Homo sapiens: one gene and its partner. The protein of the gene in region 1 interacts with the protein of each later gene in a biochemical or structural test. Each region holds a gene or a part of one and is shown on either strand. Other genes may lie near its edges.

Region 1 (8,799 bases):
TGCACTTTAATTTTGGGATAATCAGTTTTCCTTGACTAAAAAACACTTCAGTCACAAGATCGACATTTATGGTAACTCATCAAAGGAAGTATCAACGTACGAGGGAGATATGTGCATGAACAGGGAAAAAGGTGGTTTGGAAGTTTGATAATTCTTACATTTTTCTGTCTGGCTTTATGAGTGACTGACAGCAAAAATAATAGATCACTTTTAAAGTGTCTGCCCCATTCAACTGTTGGAATTATTAATGTTTTACATTAGTGTGCTTCGTTTTTCTTTATAAAGCTTAGATAAGATTCATGCCCTCCTGAGTCAGTGTTTTATTCAGACTTTACCATTTTAAAGTATAAAGGAGATAGCAGTTAGCTGATGTGTCAGGTTTGCCAAACTACTATGGAGAAGTTTTAAATTTAATTCGTACACCTGCTGTTCTTCAAAAGTTCAAGTAACTTTAAAAGATATTGGAAGTTAGCTTGTAGTTAACTGTAATTAAAAAACCAACACAGTGTATCAAATTTAACATCATCTGAACTATTGATTGACAGAAATTATGTACTAGTTATAAGGGTAAGTTATGCAAGTGATGATATTGCCCATACTGCTCGAGTTAGGAAGCAATAGCTTCTGGCCAGGTGTGGTGGCTCACGCCTATTATCCCAGCACTTTGGGAGGCCAGGTTGGGAGGATCACATTGAGGCCAGCCTGGTCAACATAGCAAGACCCCGTATCTATTTGAAAAAAATAAAAATAAAGCAATAGCGTCTGTATTTTATTTTGTTTATTTTTTTTGAGATGGAGTTTCACTCTTGTCTCCCAGGCCAGAGTGCAATGGCATGATCTAGGCTCACTGCAACCTCTGCCTCCTCAGTAGCTGGGATTACAAGCGCCCGCCACCAAGCCCAGCTAATGTTTGTATTTTTAGTAGAGACGGGGTTTCACCATGTTGGCCAGGCTAGTCTCGAACTCCTGACCTCAGGTGATCCACCTGCCTTGGCCTCCCAAAGTGCTAGGATTACAAGCATGAGCCATCACACCCAGCCAGCTTCTGTATTTTGTATATATTTTTTAAATAATTATGTTTTTTTTCCTTTTGAGTAGCTGAGACAACAAGGACATGCCATTAGACCTGCCTGGCTAATTTTTGACATTTTTTGTAGCAAGAAGGTCTCACTATCTTGCCTGTTCTTGGGCTGAAGCGATCCCGCCCACCTCGGCCTCGAAAAGTGCTAGGGTTACAGGGCGAGCCACTGAGCCTGGCTGCATTGTCCTATTTTAAGTCTGGTTTCTGTATCTTGATCCATGATAAGATGTAATGTTGTTAAGTGAATCCTTAAATTATGTATATATCCAAAAATACTAATGTGTTCTGCAGAGGAATTACTAATTCTGATCTCTTTACTTTGAACTTTCCAGTTCTTGCCTGTTGAAAAGCTGAAAAAGTGTTACTTTTAAAAAGTTTGCTGATATCAGTGTAGTGTAGTATGCCAGTGTAGTTCTGTATTGTCTTGAATGTGACTGTGGTTTTGGGGGTCTAGAGATGTTCAGGAGAAAGGATCCTATATTTGTCACTTTAAAAAATATTACCAAGCTAAAGAGTGGTGTTTTATATTTGTTTCTTAGCATATTTTGTAAATCCATCTATTTATGTAATTTTTTTATGTTTTTCCTCTTGATTCTAAAAGTAGTATGTGTTCCTTCTGTTACATTTAGAAAACAGGTAAAAGAATAAAGTGATAATTACCTATCTGTAATTCCACTATTCTGTCATATTTACTCTCAGCCTTATTTTTATTTTTATTTTTTGAGACAGGGTTTTGCTCTGTCACCCATACTCTGGGGCACATACAGGTGGCATGATCATAGCTCACTGTAGCCTTGAACTCCTGGATTCAAGCAATCCCTCCTGCCTTAGGCTCTGGAGTAGCTAGGACTACAGGCGCCACTATGCCCGGCTAATTTTTAAATTATTTTGTAGAGAATGGGGGTCTTGCTCTGTTGCCCAGCTGATCTCAAACTCCTGGGCTCAAGAGGTCCTCCTGCCTCGACCTCCCAAAGTGCTAGGATGACAGGTGTAAGCCACCACACCTGGTACACGCTCAGCCTTTTAAGAGGAAGTTTTTGTTCCTCTAAAATTGTAGTTGTGATGTTTAGTTTTGTGTCCTCTCTTTTTGATTTAGCTTATTACAAGCATTTTCTCAGGTTATTGGTTGAACATATAACTGCCAGCCTTTAAAAAAACAGGCTCTTCTGATTATGTGAATATAGGAAACAGAAAAGGCAAAAATCCTGTTTCATGCCACTGGCTGATAGGTACAGCCATCCTTAGATGCACCCTTTTGCATTATTATAGTAGTGCAATAGGCTGTCGGAAACTTTGATAATTTGCTGCTAATTAACTGATAAAAATGTAGATGTTTCTCATCCGTGTGTAGAAGCAGAACCTAAGTTCACATTTTTCCGTATAACTGGTGGCCTGAGTTTCAGTTTGGTTGGTCAAGCATCTGATGAATTTGATAAAAAATATTTGAGATGGAGTCTCACTGTGTCACCCAGGCTCGAGTACAGTGGTGCAATCTCAGGTCACTGCAACCTCCGCCTCCTGGGTTCAAGCAATCCTTCTGCCTCAGTCTCTCCAGTAGCTGGGATTACAGGCCCCCTCCCACCATGCCCGGCTAATTTTCATATTTGTAGTAGAGAGGGTTTCACCATATTGGTCAAGCTGGTCTCAAACTCCTGACCTCAGGTGATCCACCTGCCTCATTCTCCCAAAGTGCTGCGATTACAGGCATGAGTCACCGTGCCTGGCCAAAATATTAAGATACAGTATGTCCACCAGAAAAACCTAAAGGCAGGATGGCAGCATGTAAATAGTATTTGAGGTCTCTGGCATCAGAACTAGGTTTTTTGGTTTTGGCTTTTTAGAAAATTTTTTAATAAAAAAATCAAGATATAATACATAGACCATAAAGTTTACCCTGTTAAAGTGTACAGTTCCGTGGGTTTTAGTATATGTATTCAAAGTTGTGTAACCATCACCATTGTCTAATTCCAGAATTTTTCATCATCCCTCAAAGAAACCTGATACCCATTAGTAATAATTCCCATTCCCCTTTCTTCCCAGCCCGTAATCTGTTTTCTGTTTCTATGGGTTAATCTATTCCGGACACTTCATTTAATGGAATCATGATTTATGGCCTCTTTGTCTGGCTTTTTTCACTTGGCATGATGTTGTCAAAGTTCATTCATAATGGCCGGGCGCGGTGGCTCACGCCTGTAATCCCAGCACTTTGGGAGGCTGAGGCGGGCAGATCACGAGGTCAGGAGTTCGAGACCAGCCTGGACAACATAGTGAAACCCCATCTATACTCAAAATACAAAAATTAGCCGGGTGTGGTGGCAGATACCTGTAGTCCCAGCAACTCAGGAGGCCGAGGCACGAGAATCCCTTGAACCCGGGAGGTGGAGGTTGCAGTGAGCTGAGATCGTGCCATTGCACTCCAGCCTAGGTGACAGAGTGAGACTCTGTCTCAAAAAAAAAAAAAGAAAAGAAAAGAGAAGAAAAAAGTTCATTCATATTATAGCGTATATTAGTACTTCATTCTTTTTTTTTTCCTTTTCATTAAATTCACATAAGCACCTCATTTCTTTTGATGGCCAAATAGTAATTACATTGTATGGATAAACCACATTTTATTTATCCATTCATCAGATGATAAAAATTAGGTTGTTTTCACTTTCTAGCTCTTCAACATTCATGAACAAGTTTTTGTGTGGGCATGTGTTTTAAATTCTCTGATAAATACTTAGGAGCGGAATTGTGTCATGGTAACCGTCTTGAACATTTTGAGGACCTGACAAACATTTCCATTTTACATCCTCGTTTACATCCCCACTAGCAATATATGAGGGTTCTAATTTTTCTGCAAGACTCAGGTTTTTAAATATCTGTTCTTCTGTTTCTGTGACTGTGGGGGACATTTCTGGACATTAAATGTCTCATCTGAAAAATGAAAGGTTATTGTGAGAATTAAAGTCCAAAAATGTATAGAATCACCTACTATGCTTAGAATGCAGTAAATATTCAATTTTAAATTATTATTTTAAACTATTACGCAGCCTGGGCACCATACCATGGCAAGACCTCATCTCTACAAAAAAATTTTAAAAATTAGCTGGGCATGGTGGCGTGCCCCTGTAGACCCAGCTACTAGGGAGGCTGAGGTGGGAGGATTGCTGGAGCCCAGGAGTTTGAGGCTACAGTGAGCCATGTTTGCACCACTGCACTCCAGGCTGGGTGACAGATCGAGACCCTGTCTCAAAAAACAAATGTATATATATGTACACACACACACTTATAATTATGAAGGTATATTTCAAACTTGTAGATAATTTGAAAGATAAAGGAAAACATGAAAAATCTTTTTATCCATCTGAAAATACTCTTTTGTCTTTCCAGTCTTACTCCTTTCTGCAATATTTTTTTCTCCCTCAAAGTTGAGATCATTGGATCTAACTTTTTTCTTTTTTTGAGACGGAGTCTTGCTTTGTTGCCTAGGCTAGAGTGCAGTGGCGCAATCTCGGCTCACTACAGACTCCGCCTCCCGGGTTCAAGCGATTCTCCTGCCTCAGCCTCCCAAGTAGCTGGGATTACAGGCACCCGCCACTGCGCCCGGCTAATTTTTGTATTTTTTAGTAGAGACAGGGTTTCACCATCTTGGCCAGGCTGGTCTCAAACTCCTGACCTCATGATCCATCCACCTCAGCCTCCCAAAGTGCTGGGATTACAGGTGTGAGCCACTGCACCCGGCCTCAATTTTTCATCACTAATTATGATACTAGCTGTAGGTTTTTTATAGATGTTCTTTTTTTGTTTTTTGTTTTATTTATTTATTTATTTATTTATTTATTTATTTATTTATTTATTGAGACAGAGTCTTGGTCTGTTGCCCAGGCTGGAGTGCAGTGGCATGATCTCGACTCACTGCGCCTCCACCTCCCGGGTTCAAGCAATTCTCCTGCCTCAGCCTCCCGAGTAGCTGGGATTACAGGCGCCCGCCACCATGCCTGGCTAATTTTTGTATTTTTAGTAGAGATGGGGTTTCACCATGTTGGCCAGGCTGGTTTCAAACTCCTGGCCTCATGATCCACCCTCCTCGGCCTCCTAAAGTGCTGGGATTTCAGGTGTGAGCCACCGTGCCCGGCTGGATCTAACTTTTTAAATTTAAAATGTAAGTATTTCTTGCTGCCATAATTATGGGCAAAGGTTTGTTTTTTTGGGTTTTTTGTTTGTTTTTTTGAGACGGAGTCTCGCTTTGTTGCCCAGGCTGGAGTGCCGTGGCGCGGTATGGGCTCACTGTAACCTCCACCTCCCGGGTTCAAGCGATTCTCCTGCCTCAGCCTCCCAAGTAGCTGGGTTTACAGGCGCCAGCCACCACGCCTAGCTAATTTTTGTATTTTTAGTAGAGACTGGGTTTCACCACGTTGGCCAGGCTGGTCGCGAACTGCTGACCTCGTGATCCACCCACTTCAGCCTCCCAAAGTGCTGGGATTACAGGTGTGAGCCACGGGGCCCGGCCTTGTTTGTTTGAGACAGGATCTTGCTCTGTTGCTTACGCTGAATTGCAGTGGTGTGATCATGGCTCGCTGCAGCCTTGATCCCCTGGGCTCAAGGGATCCTCCTGCCTCAGCCTCCCACGTAGCTGGGAATATAGATGGGCACCACCCTGCCTAATTTTTGTTTGTTTTGAGACAGGGTCTCAATTCTGTTGCCCAGGCTGAAGCACAGTGGTGCGATCACAGCTCACTGCAGCCTTGACCTCCTGGGGTCAAGTGATCCTCCCATCTCAGCCTCACCCAGTAGCTGGGACTACAGGCATGTGCCATCACAACCGGCTAATTTTTTTTTTTTTTTGAGACGGAGTTTTGCTCCTGTTGCCCAGGTTGGAGTGTAATGGCGCGATCTCAGCTCACTGCGACCTCCGCCTCTCAGGTTCAAGCAATTCTCCTGCCTCAGCCTCCCGAGTAGCTGGGATTACAGGCATGTGCCACTACACCCAGCTAATTTTGTATTTTTAGTAGAGACGGGCTTTCTCCATGTTGGTCAGGCTGGTCTCTAATTCCTGACTTCAGGTGATCCACCTGCCTTGGCTTCCCAAAGTGCTGGGATTACAGGTGTGAGCCACTGTGCCTCACTCACACCTGGCTAATTTTTGTATTTTTTGTAGTGACAGGGTTTTGCCATGTTGTCCAGGCTGGTCACAAACTCCTGAGCTCAGGTCATCCACCTGCCTCAGCCTCCCAACATGCTGGGATTACAGGTGTGAGTAGAGACGGGCTTTCTCCATGTTGGTCAGGCTGGTCTCTGACTCCTGACTTCAGGTGATCCACCCGCCTTGGCTTCCCAAAGTGCTGGGATTACAGGTGTGAGCCACTGTGCCCCACTCACACCTGGCTAATTTTTGTATTTTTTGTAGTGACAGGGTTTTGCCATGTTGTCCAGGCTGGTCACAAACTCCTGAGCTCAGGTCATCCACCTGCCTCAGCCTCCCAACATGCTGGGATTACAGGTGTGAGCCACCATGCACAGCTTCCCAGCTAATTTACTTTTTCTTCTTTAAAGATGGATCTCGCTATGTTGACCAGGCTGGTTTCAAACTCCTGGGCTCAAGCGATCCGCCTGCCTCAGCCTCCCAAAGTGCTAGGATTACAGGTGTGAGTGACTGCCTGGCCAGCAAAGATTTCTGAGGTAGTTTTCCTGCTATAGTAACACTTTGGTCAAAGTGCAGGTCTAGTTAAGGAGAACAAGTATTCCAGTACATCTTTAAATACAGTTGCTTGTTTCTGGACACGGAGGGGAGGGAGACCATTGCTGGGCTATACAGATTAGTCTTATCTTGGCTAGTTGAAAATTGGTAATAGTTTTCATTTTGTGGAGAAATTTCATTGCCAAATATTGCAACATTAAGGAAATACATAAGAAATGACTGAAGTGGCTCAAAATTGTTGGACCAATATGTTTTTGAGTAAAGAACTATAAGTTTTAAGTGATGACTGTATATGTTTAATTCGTGCATTAAAGCTTATAAATACCTTTTTCAAAAACTCTTAATTTGCATTTATACAGCATTGTTATTTTTGATACAACTGCATAAGATACATTCTGTGTTGCTGTGAGCCATTAAACTGTTGTCTTGTAATTTATATTTAGAAAATAATTTGTGGATACTTAAAAGTCATTATGGGCGCATTATTTTTTCCCCTTGAATTCTGGGGTGACCTAGAAATGGTTGCATGATTTTGTAAACACTTCCCTTTTTAAAAAAGTAAAATGAGTATGTAAAATATTATATATTTAAAGCCCTCAAGCAGTCGTCTTCAAAAAGATACATCAGGAAATGTAAACAGCCCAACATTTTAATTAAAAAAAATCTGCTTGGACAATTTTTTTTCTCTTTTCATAAAAGTAATACATGATTTTTGGGTAAAAAAAAATTCCTATCAGTAGAGGAGCAAGGAAAATAATTATTCATACAGTATTCATACAAGCACATATAAAACCTATTAAAAGAAAACTTGGATTACCTACATGCTTTTGTATAATTTAAAATGATATAGTCATGATTTGTCTTGGATTTCTTCAATTCTTTTCTTTGTCAGTATTTTTGGATTTACTTTTTTTTTTTTTTTTTTTTTTTGAGACTGAGTTCCGCTCTTGTTGTCCAGGCTGTAGTGCAATGGCACGATCTCGGCTCACTGCAACATCCGCCTCCTGGGTTCAAGCGAGTCTCCTGCCTCAGCCTCCAGAGTATCTGGGATTATAGGCATATGCCACCACATCCAGCTAGTTTCTGTATTTTTAGTAGAGACGGGATTTTACCATGTTGGCCAGGCTGGTCTCAAACTCCTGGCCTCAGGTGATTCGCCCACCTCAGCCTCCCAAAGTACTGTGATTACAGGCATGAGCCACAGCGCCAGGCCTTACCTTGTTTTTAAATGACAATCTGAGGTCCAGTTGGACCTCCGGTGATAACTGGCAGGTACCATAGTTTTGTGTGTGTGCGTGTGTGTGTGTGTTTCTTAATCAGCGTCTCAGTTTCAATTCTGACTTGGCTTAATCATATTTGAACTTAAAGGTTAATTTTGGTTAACTTAAAAATCTGATGCTTTCAAGAGACAGCTTTGTTGGACCATTTAAAGATCCAGTTGTTTTTTGCCACCCCCCTTTGTTTTATATCTTGTTACTAAAGATGCCAAACTTTAATGTAGCTCCTTTTTATGTATTTTTTAGAATTATGTTTTCTGATTTTTTTGATAATGTTCCATGCTCAAAAAATAAAACACTTGTATAACAGTTGGTTTTTATTATTATGCTCATGAATGAGGGCTTGATGTGGGCTGATCACACTGACTAGTAGTTGGGAAGGAATAAACCTGTATCCGAGTACGAAGTGGGGAACAGGGTTTTACAGGACAAAGGAATAAAAGGCTTGAGTCTCCAAAAAGAACTTAAAGTTATTCTTGGTAGGGTACAGAGTAGAAAGGGTTGTTAAGAGGGTAGAAGGAATCAGAATTGCCTGTAGCCTTCGCTTCTGTTTTGGACTAACTGATAAAAGATAGACTTACTTGCATAGGAATGTAAATTAGATAAGTGAGATAATTTCAGCTCTTTTTTAACTTACTAGCATTGCTTTTATGTGCTAAGTCATGCTTTGATTTAAATATTAAGAAAGTGTCCTTGCTTAAATCAATACTTGATTGAATCGATACAAAAATCTGTGATAAGATAAACCCAGGCGGCCA
Region 2 (9,698 bases), on another chromosome or scaffold:
CCACCTCCATCTTCTCTTTATTTTAAAAGTATTTCACATGTCTTGTTGAGGGAGATTTTACCTTCAGATTGAAATTCATGATATTGCTGCTAAGTATAAAAAGGACAACATGCCAGGAGGATGTTTTCCTTAACAACACTATCTCAGTCAATATTAAAAGGCAGGTCCTGATAAAATAATTTAAAGATAGTTTCCTAAGAGCTTCAATAAATTCAGTTTGTTAAATACTTTATAACTTTTCTTCTATAATAAATGAAGGTGGTAATACTATTAATAAATTTCACCTAAGAATAGTAATAAGAGGTTGTGCAGAGTTAGTCTAGGAAATGCCTGACTTGGATACATGTTAGCTACAACTCATGAGATGCTTGCCTCAAAAAATTCATTTCTAAGTTAATTGTTTGGAACTCAAAATCTTCATATACATTGGTGAGGCTTATGAGTCTAGTCGAGTTAATTTATACTGAACCTGAAGCATTATTAATAGTATTATTATTTTTAAAAATACCATTCTAGAGTTTACAATAGTGTTTATTATTTCGCATTCAGAAGGGAAAGGAGCTGTCAACTTTAGTAGTCCTGGGTATCAGTAACTCTTCACTTTTGTTTAAGGCATATTACTACAAGGATTCAATGAATAAGTGGTTGGGGTTGGGAAGCCAGGAGTTACCTTTCTAATTGTCATAGTACACTGGAAATCAGGGCAGTTGGCTCACTAAAAGCCCTGAACTTGGGTTTCTCTACACCATTAATATATAGGGATATATAAGTTGGGGACTTTTTGGACCTGGTTTGAGGAAAGTGGACCTTATTAGGTGGATTAAAAAGTTGCAATTAGTCCATTTTACATGACACTATAGTCAGAACCAAGTAATTATCCATTATAGTCTGATCAAAACTTGCATGAAAATCAACTAAAAATTCAGAATTAAGTATTTTTAAAAGCTTGCAATGCATTGAAGAGCAGGCAATCAAGTGAGAATACTTAGGGGTGGAGGATGGGGGACAAATAAAAGTAGCTACAAGAGCCACCTCTCTCTGTAATCCCAGCACTTTGGGAGGCCGAGGTGGGTGGATCACGAGGTCAAGAGATGGAGACCGTCCTGACCAACATGGTGAAACCCTGCCTCTACTAAAAATACAAAAATTAGCTAGGCGTGATGGCAGGTGCCTGTAGTTCCAGCTACTCGGGAGGCTGAGGCAGGAGAATTGCTTGAACCCAGGAGGTGGAGGTTGCAGTGAGCCAAGATCACGCCACTGCACTCCAGCCTGGCGACAGAGCGAGACTCCATCTCAAAAAAAAAAAAAAAAAGAAAAGCCACCTTTCATCTTCATCTTTAGGGTTTTTCCTAAGCTGGATGAACTGGAAGACCATGAACTGTTATCATGGTCTTATGGGTCTTCAGACCCTTCCTAATGTGGGAAATCCAACAGGATACTCTTCATAAAGCTGATACACCCCAAAGGTATTCAAGGACAATTGTCTCAAACAATGGAGCATAGTTAAGGGGAAAAAAGCTTCCCAGAGGATTCATAGCTACAAACCAGGTCTCACATGAATGGTCTGAAGAATTTCAAGCTGAGAATTTAGTGTTTATGTTTCTGAATTGCTAGTGATCCCAAGCATCTACCAGCAGTAAATTAATATCTTCTCCAGAGAACTCATTTTCATTTCAGCTGTCACTCAATTTCTATATATAAAGTTCTAAGGATCACATAACATAAAAAGAAATCACATACATAGAAGAAATCAAGAGACCATAAGTATGAACAAGTAGAAAAAAGATCAGTTAGTAGAAGCAGACCCACAAATGCTTCAGATATTGGAATTTTTAGAAATAGAATTTAAAGTATATATATTAAATATTTTTAATAAATTAAAGAGATGCTGAAAATATGAGTTAAGAGAATACAGATTTGGAAAATAACCAAACAGAACTTTAGAAATAAAAATAATATAAATTAAAAACTAAATGGGTGACTTTGACAGAAAATGAGACAAAGCTGAAGAAAGAATTAGTGAACAGAATATTTTTGAAATTTTCCAGAATACAGCGTAGACAGATAAAGAGAGACATACTATAAAAGAGATGTTTGACAAACATGGAGGGTAGAATAACACATGTGTTATCAGAGTCCCAGAAGGAATGGAAAGAAAGGAGTCCAGAATTTTCCAGAACTGATGAAAGTCACCAATCCAGAGTCAAGAAAATTAAAGAAACCAAGAAACATGGATGAATAAAAATCTACACCTAGATACTTCACAGTGAAACTATAGAAAACTAAAGACAAAAATGAAACATCATAAATGCAGTCAGAGAGAAAAAACAGATGACATTTTAAGATTACTTTCAAAGTTCCAATTGTTATTAGGGAACTTAGAAGACAGTGTAATGATATTGATAACATGCAGAAAGAAATAATAGTAAACTTTGAATTCTTCATCAGTGAAAATATTTTTCAAGAGTGAGGGATAAATAAATACATTCCAACTCAAACAAAAAGGGAAAGAATTTTAGGCAGAAGGAAAGTGATCCTACACAGAAGATCTAAAATGAAAATACAAAAGAATGGTAAAGTTCTGAGTAAATCTAAACAAACATGGACTGTATAAAACAACATTCATAATGCATTTTTGGGGGGATTTTAGTTTTGAGGGGGTTTTAGAGGTTCTTGTATTGTTTGAGAGAGGGTGGATATCCTTGTGAACTCTGGCTTTAATCAGTTAAAATGTACCTATTAAAATTTCTAGGATAACTCCTAAATGAATAGAAACAGAGTAAATAACTTCCAAACTAGAAGAGGTGGGGGCAGAAATGAAAGCATAAATAGTAATCCTAAAGAATGCAAAAGTGAAAGAAAAAAACAGATCAGAAGAAACAAACGGGAAGTACAAAATTAGATGGCAGAAATAGATTTAAATTTATCAGCATTTTTCTCTCTTTTTTTTTTTTAATTTTTTTTAGACAGTGTCTCACTCTGTCAACCAGGCTGCAATGCAGCGGCATGATCTTGGCTCACTGCAACCTCTGCCTCCCAGGTTCAAGTGATTCTGAAGCCTCAGCCTCCTTATTATCTGGGACTACAGGCTTGCACCACCCACCACACCCAGCTAATTTTTGTATTTTTAGCAGACAGGGTTTCACCAAGTTGGCCAGGCTGGTCTTGAACTCCTGGCCTCAACTAATCTACCCGCCTTAGCCTCCCAAAGTGATGGGATGACAGGCATGAGCCACTGCGCCCAGCCTAAATTTATCAACAGTTTTAATACATGCAAATTGTCTAGGGGTTTGATGTAAGAGCTAAAGATGATCAGACTAGATTAAAAATCAAGACTAAAAATTTTAGATAAATTTGAAACATGATGGTTTAGAAAGTTTGAATGTAAAAGGATGAAAAGAGATATCCTAACATCAGACAAATACTATTCAGAAGAAAACTGTTTAGAATCTAAGGCAAAAGTACGATTGGAGGTAAAGAAAGTAACAACATAATGATGAATGGTTGTATTTATTAGGTAGATATAGAAATTATAAACTGATGTGTATATTATTACACAGCCCCAAACTGTGTAAGGTAGAACCTGAAAGAACTATAGGCTGAAATAGAAAAATCTACCATCATGTTGGGATATTTAAACTCATCTCTCCCATTAATTGAATTATGTCAAGCAGATGCAAATTCAGTAATAGAAGATGTCAACAACACAATCATCGTATTTGATCATGGACATATATTTAGAACACTGTACCCCAAAGCTGCAGAATATATATTCTTTACAAACCACATACAACATTTAAGTCTTGAAACATTTAAAAAATTAACTAAATTAATTAATTAATAAGAAATTAATTAATAAATAAAGACCATGTTCTTTGACAACAATACAGACTATGTTCTTTGACTGGTATGGTCCTGAAAACTGTTAATATTAATTGTCGAGTAGGAAATATCATTGCTGAAATATGATCTTGGGAAGATTTAAGACTAATTTGAAGGTTTGCCCTTTGTACACTTCTCTATCAGTCATATGGGAAGTTCTATATGAAATGAGTATTACTAAAGTTATACCATCGATTTCATTAAAGCTATTACCAAGGTAAGTGTATGATATTTGTTTTCTAATTTTTTAACACCTCATGCATGTAGATCATGTACACCTATGTTCCTATCCCTTTTATTTCAGTAATAACAGAACAGATAAATCTCTTCATTATGGTCAGCCTAAAAGCTCACTTAAAAAGATTTGCTTTGGGATGCGAATGTGTAGTATTTCCCTCGATGTACTTAACATAAATGGAATGAAGAACAATTTTATACTGTTCAAGGGTATGACTGTCATTTAAAATAAAATCCCAACAATGGATGAGGAAAACAATTGTATTATTATCTCCTCACACCAAATTAAAAAGTCCTCAATATGGTCACCCCAAGTAGGGTTCCTTTCTTTGGAAATAATTAATTATAATGAAAGGAGAAGTTTGAGAAATTCAGTAACAGTTGGGGCAGAAGTGGCTTTTAGCTTACGAATTTTTTTTTTCAAGGCTTTGGAGTATGGTCACTTATGCAGAAAAATCTTTATTTGGGAAAAGAAAACTTATGTAGTATAGTTTGCCTAATTGTGAAACTGAAATTCACAGAATAATTTCTCAAAAGATAATACAAATTTGTAGCACCTGTTTTACTTGAACATCACACTGCTCATGTGATGTACAAGTAATAATTCCCATTTTACAAATGTAGGAACCGAGAAACTGAAGTGTCTCACCCCGAGTCAAGCTATGACAACACTTTATGATAAACACATTTTTTTTTTGTTTGTTTGTTTCCCAGTTATGGCCCGTCCTCATTTTTTACTAACAGGCCCATGGCTATACAATATTTCTGATCCTGTTGACCAAGTAGTACCCAATTTTGGCAAGAAAGTTTAAGGTTATATAACTGAGTGCAACTTCAGGTTCTCTGACTCTTGAGTTTTTTAATTCTTAAGACTCCTTTTCTGACTTTTATGTCTTATGACTCACACTACATTCATACCACATTTGGTTTCCTCTCATCATCTTAACTTCTGCATGAATAAAGTCTGAAGTAACCACCTTTTGGAAGAAACACTGTGGCTATGTGTCAAGGGTGGCAGTGTTAGCTGGGAGAAGGCCTTTCCCAGAAGATCTCTGTGTAAGAGCCTGGCCTTCCACAGTCATTTGAATGTCCATCATAAGACTTTTCTACCTGTCTTCTCAGTAGATCCTAAATATGAGACAGCAGAGGAGGGAGACAGGCAATATGAGGTAGAAGTAAATAATCAGCATCAGATAGACCTGGTGTGAACTCCAGCTTTGCCATTACTCCCTGGTTTCTTCATCTGTAAAATGCTGATGAAAGTATCTATCACACACCTATGACAAGTACTGGGTGAGAGTGCACATAACCTGCTTCACATGTGCTTTAGGGCTGTGTAAATCAGTCCCTCCCACGCTTATTCAGTGGTGCCCTCTCTGAACTCGCCTAAACTGCCAGACTATGAGGCCTGCGACTATGTACATGTGTTCAAAAGTTAGTCCTTGGTTATCACTGCAGTCTGTGGTATAGGAATGTCTGCCTCCCACATGCGCAGACAAGTGGGGCACTACCATTTGGCTACTTGACAGGGCTATTTAGCAGGTGCACATGTCTGAACATTCCTGAATCAGGAGGGGGTAGCTCTGGATTTCAGAGAGCTGTAAGCAGGCCACAGCTGGAGTGACGCAAGAGCCAGGGGCATCAACTTGAGCTCTGAATTTGTAGTATGAAATGAAAGGAACCCAAGTCCGTGTGTATGTGTGTGGAAAACACTGCAGGTCGAGGTACTTTTCCAGGTACTTCGCCCTTTGTGGGGTTGCAGCCCCGACGCCCTGGAATCTGGACTGGACCCAGAAAGGAAGCCGGTTTGGTTCATGCTGAGGACACAGGGGGCACCTTGCCTTTCTGGCTAGGTGGCAAAGCGGTACGTGGGCCATCCCAGCAGGCACTAGCGCTCCCCCTGCACCCTCTGGCCGCCCGGGCGCGGGGACCTGGCCCCCGCCTCCTCCACAGTCTCCGACTTGCGAGCCGCACGGCCCAGGTGAAGCCGCTGGGCGCGTCCCCGCGCGCCCCTTCCCCCTCCCGGCGACTTCCTGATTTGCAAGAAGGTGCAGGAGCCGCAGCGGGCGGCCCCGGTCGCAGGAACTGAGAGGCCTCAGCTTTGGTGGCGGCTACCGGCGGAGACGGGGGCGGCGGCCACGCCACCGCTGCTGTCACAGAAAGGCTCTGGTGGGTGGGGTGGGAGGCGGGGAAGTGCCGGGGGCGCAGCCGACATGGGCCCGCCGCCACGGCTGCTGTGAGCAGCCTCTTTCCCTGTGTGGCCGCCGGCGTGGGCGGGGACGGCGCGACCCTCGCGCGGCCGGGCTGCGGGCTTCCAGGCCAGCGCGCGGGGGCCGGACGGACAGCCCCACACCGACATGTAACCATGGACTGCAGGACCAAGTGAGTGGGGGGGCCCGGGCGCGTCGGGGGCGGGCGTCCCTCGGCGGCCCCTCCCAGGCCAGCTCGGCTCCTCCGCGCCTCCGCGCTCAACCGGCTCCCCGGGCGGCCGAGGTTGGCCGGGCGGGCTGGGGGTGCGGTCCGGCCCCCAAGCCTCTGGCCGGCCGGCGGGACGGCGCTAGGCCGCAAAGCCTGCCCGCCCTGCGTCCCCGGCCCTCCGTGGTTGGCGCGGCTCCTCCCGGAGAGGCCACTAGCGCCTTGTCGACGCCCGCCTTTCGGGGGACAGGGGAGGCCGGGCGGCCCCTGACACCGCCGCTGAGGGGTTCTCGTGCTTCCCCCGAGTGTGTCAGATGTGACTCTCCTGGGGCTGCCTGTGTGCGTGTGGTGTCCGGGAGGGAGTCAGCGTTGAGGTTAAGAGGTTATTATTCCGAGTGCTCTCTGAGCATTAAATATAACCGGTGTTTTCTTAAGTCCGTTTGTTACTTTTGTCTTGGATGTTTTCTTATGATTCTGCTTATAAAATTAGATTGGTCTCTGGTGTTTCTTTATGCAGCAACTGTAGATGCATGGTTCTTGCAAAACGGTATCCAATTAGAGGGTACTTTTATGTGTGTGCTAAAGTATTTATCAACGACTACTTTGCTCAGGAGATTAGGTAAAAAGCAATTTTAATAACGGTGGTGATTTTGTTTCTAGGTATCTTAGAGGCATGAGTTTTATATTTTTCTTCTGAAACTTAACTTTGGAAAGAATTCCTTTTTACTTCGCTTACCCACCCTTTACTATCTCCTTCTCAAAAAGTTTAAAATAATGCCATGTATATTTGTATTATTGTGAAAGGCCGTTTGAATTTCACAGAAGTAAAACTGAGTCAATATTTAACTTTTACACCTAAGAGAAATTCTAAAGAATATTAGGGAAAGAGGGAAATTATGTAATAGAATTATTTTCTTCAGTGTGTTTGACATCATGGTGGGCAGGGTAAGTGAGTAAAAATAGTATGCTTCTTGACATTAATTGTTTTAAGAGGGAGGAAGTCATCTGAGCCCAGATTATTCCCATTGAAACAAGTTAATAGCGGAAAGGCTAAAAAAATGTATATTTGCATGTTAATTTATATGTCTTGTCACTTCCTATGTTTCCAGATTCATATCTTATAAGAAAAGCTTCCAAAAAAAGAAATGCTTTTTTTTAAAGTCAGAGCTGGCATTCGTTTCTTGAAGGAAGTACATATTAAATACAGCCAATGTACAAAGGCACTAAGGTCTTGTTAGCAGGAATAACTGAGATATTAACACATTGGCCGTTGTGGTAACAGACTTAATCTTTTACCTTATGATGGAACGAGAGATTTAAACAGCAATGTTATGAAGAAAAAGTGTCTCAGTATATTTCAGTTCACTTTTTGAAATTTAACCAATGTTGCTTTGAAATTTTGCAAATATGGCAAGTTAGTAAAAAAGTCAATAACTTCTGAATTAAGCAAAGTAAACTTACAGTTTCTAGTGGGAAAATCTAACATGGAAGCAGATGGCTGGTTTCTCCAAAGATAATGGATAAAAAGAAGGCTTTTTATGTTGCTAGCCTTAGAGCTATGAATAGTTTGCTACTTTAAATATGCATAAGTACAGTAAATACATTTTAAGAAAAGTATATGCAACGTATCACATTCATGGAGCATTATCAATGTTTTATGGTGATCTAGAACTTGGCAGGTGGAACCATGTATTCATCATTTACACTTATATTGCAAGTCCTTTGGAGACAGCCTGAGAACCTGTGTCAAACTCTGTTGGCAGGGTATAATGACACTTAGGGACACTCTGGCTTTTAAATTTGATCCAATAAGATAAAACCAATACTTTGCATTTTTGTAGCACTTAGTACTTAATGAAGTACTTGCACATATGTTATTTGATTTATAATCCTCACTATTATTCTGTGAAGTGGACAAGGCACCTCATAGGTAAGGGAGAACAGTCTCAGCGTTTAAATGCTTTGCCCCAAGTTTCAGAATTCCTAAGTCTCAGCTCTTTTAAGTTGCTCAATTGAGAAAACAGTTTCATTGTTATTTCTACTATACTGTAGTAATACAGTCACGTGAAATGTATTGAGACAAAAACAAGATTAGTTTTAGAATTAAGAAAATACAAGTTTCATGGAGATGTTTATTTGTCATAGGAAATTAATTTAAACTTTTTCCTTTTAGGGCAAATCCAGACAGAACCTTTGACTTGGTGTTGAAAGTGAAATGTCATGCCTCTGAAAATGAAGGTATGTGTCTTCTGTGTTCTGTTATTTGACAAGGTCTCTTTTTTTTGGGACAAGATCTCATTCTGTTCCTCAGGCTGTGCAGTGGCATGATCAGGGCTCACCACAACCTCTCCTTCCCGGGTTCAGGTGATCCTCCCACCTCAGCCTCCCGAGTAGCTGGAGCTACCAATGCACACCACCATGCTCAGCTAATTTTTGTATATTTTTTTGTGGAGACAGGGTTCACCACGTTGCCCAGGCTGGTCTTGAACTCCTGGGCTCAAGTGATCCACCCACCTTGCCCTCCCAAATTGTTGGGATTACAGGCGTGAGCCACTGTGCCTGGCCTGTTCTGTTAATTCTTAAAATAATTGATTGAATCTGTCAAAGCAAGTGTTAATATTGTGGACTGCTGGAACATGGTAGTAATAGGAAAATAATACTACTAAATGTGTATTCTGCATTGAGTGTCTCAAGTTGCTGGTAATAAAATAGGTGTTAAGTCTTTGCCCTGGGATTGTAAAAATCATGAATGTTATCAGTGCAGCTTGAATTTCAGGTGTGTTGTTAAGCCCATATAACTTACAACTCAGCTTCACCATTCGTTGGTAAAGTTATCATTAGTTTTGGTGAAAGGGCGAATCTTTTCATTTTCTTTCATTTATGTTTGGAAATTTAGTGTCTTTTTTTAAACATTAGTGCACATTCTCCTGCTAGTACCAATGGAAACTACACCACTTCCCTTCTGATGTTTCCAGAACGCAGAATGCAGACTGAGTAGCCCCTTCTGTTGGATTTACTCCAATAGCACAGCACTTTTGCAGGGAGGTAAACGATAGTGTGAAATTACTTGGAAGGGTTTCAGCTGTCAGTTCCGTACAATTTCCTGAAAAGATGAGAGCATAATACTTTAATGTCATGATTTTCATCATTTCCCTCCACTTTTG

The links.
Region 2: the proteins of ARF4 (region 1) and DENND1B form a complex in vitro, tested with the Homo sapiens proteins (one study listed by BioGRID).

What each region holds. Positions count from the first base shown.
Region 1 is NC_000003.12:57,586,215-57,595,013, reverse strand, and holds part of ARF4 (ADP-ribosylation factor 4), read left to right. Parts: intron 1-8,799.
Region 2 is NC_000001.11:197,771,942-197,781,639, reverse strand, and holds the start of DENND1B (DENN domain-containing protein 1B), read left to right. Parts: upstream 1-6,159; 5' UTR 6,160-6,484; coding exon 6,485-6,501; intron 6,502-6,561; exon of another isoform or gene 6,562-6,992; coding exon of another isoform or gene 6,993-7,153; intron 7,154-8,707; coding exon 8,708-8,772; intron 8,773-9,698. UniProt on the Homo sapiens protein: Guanine nucleotide exchange factor (GEF) for RAB35 that acts as a regulator of T-cell receptor (TCR) internalization in TH2 cells. Acts by promoting the exchange of GDP to GTP, converting inactive GDP-bound RAB35 into its active GTP-bound form.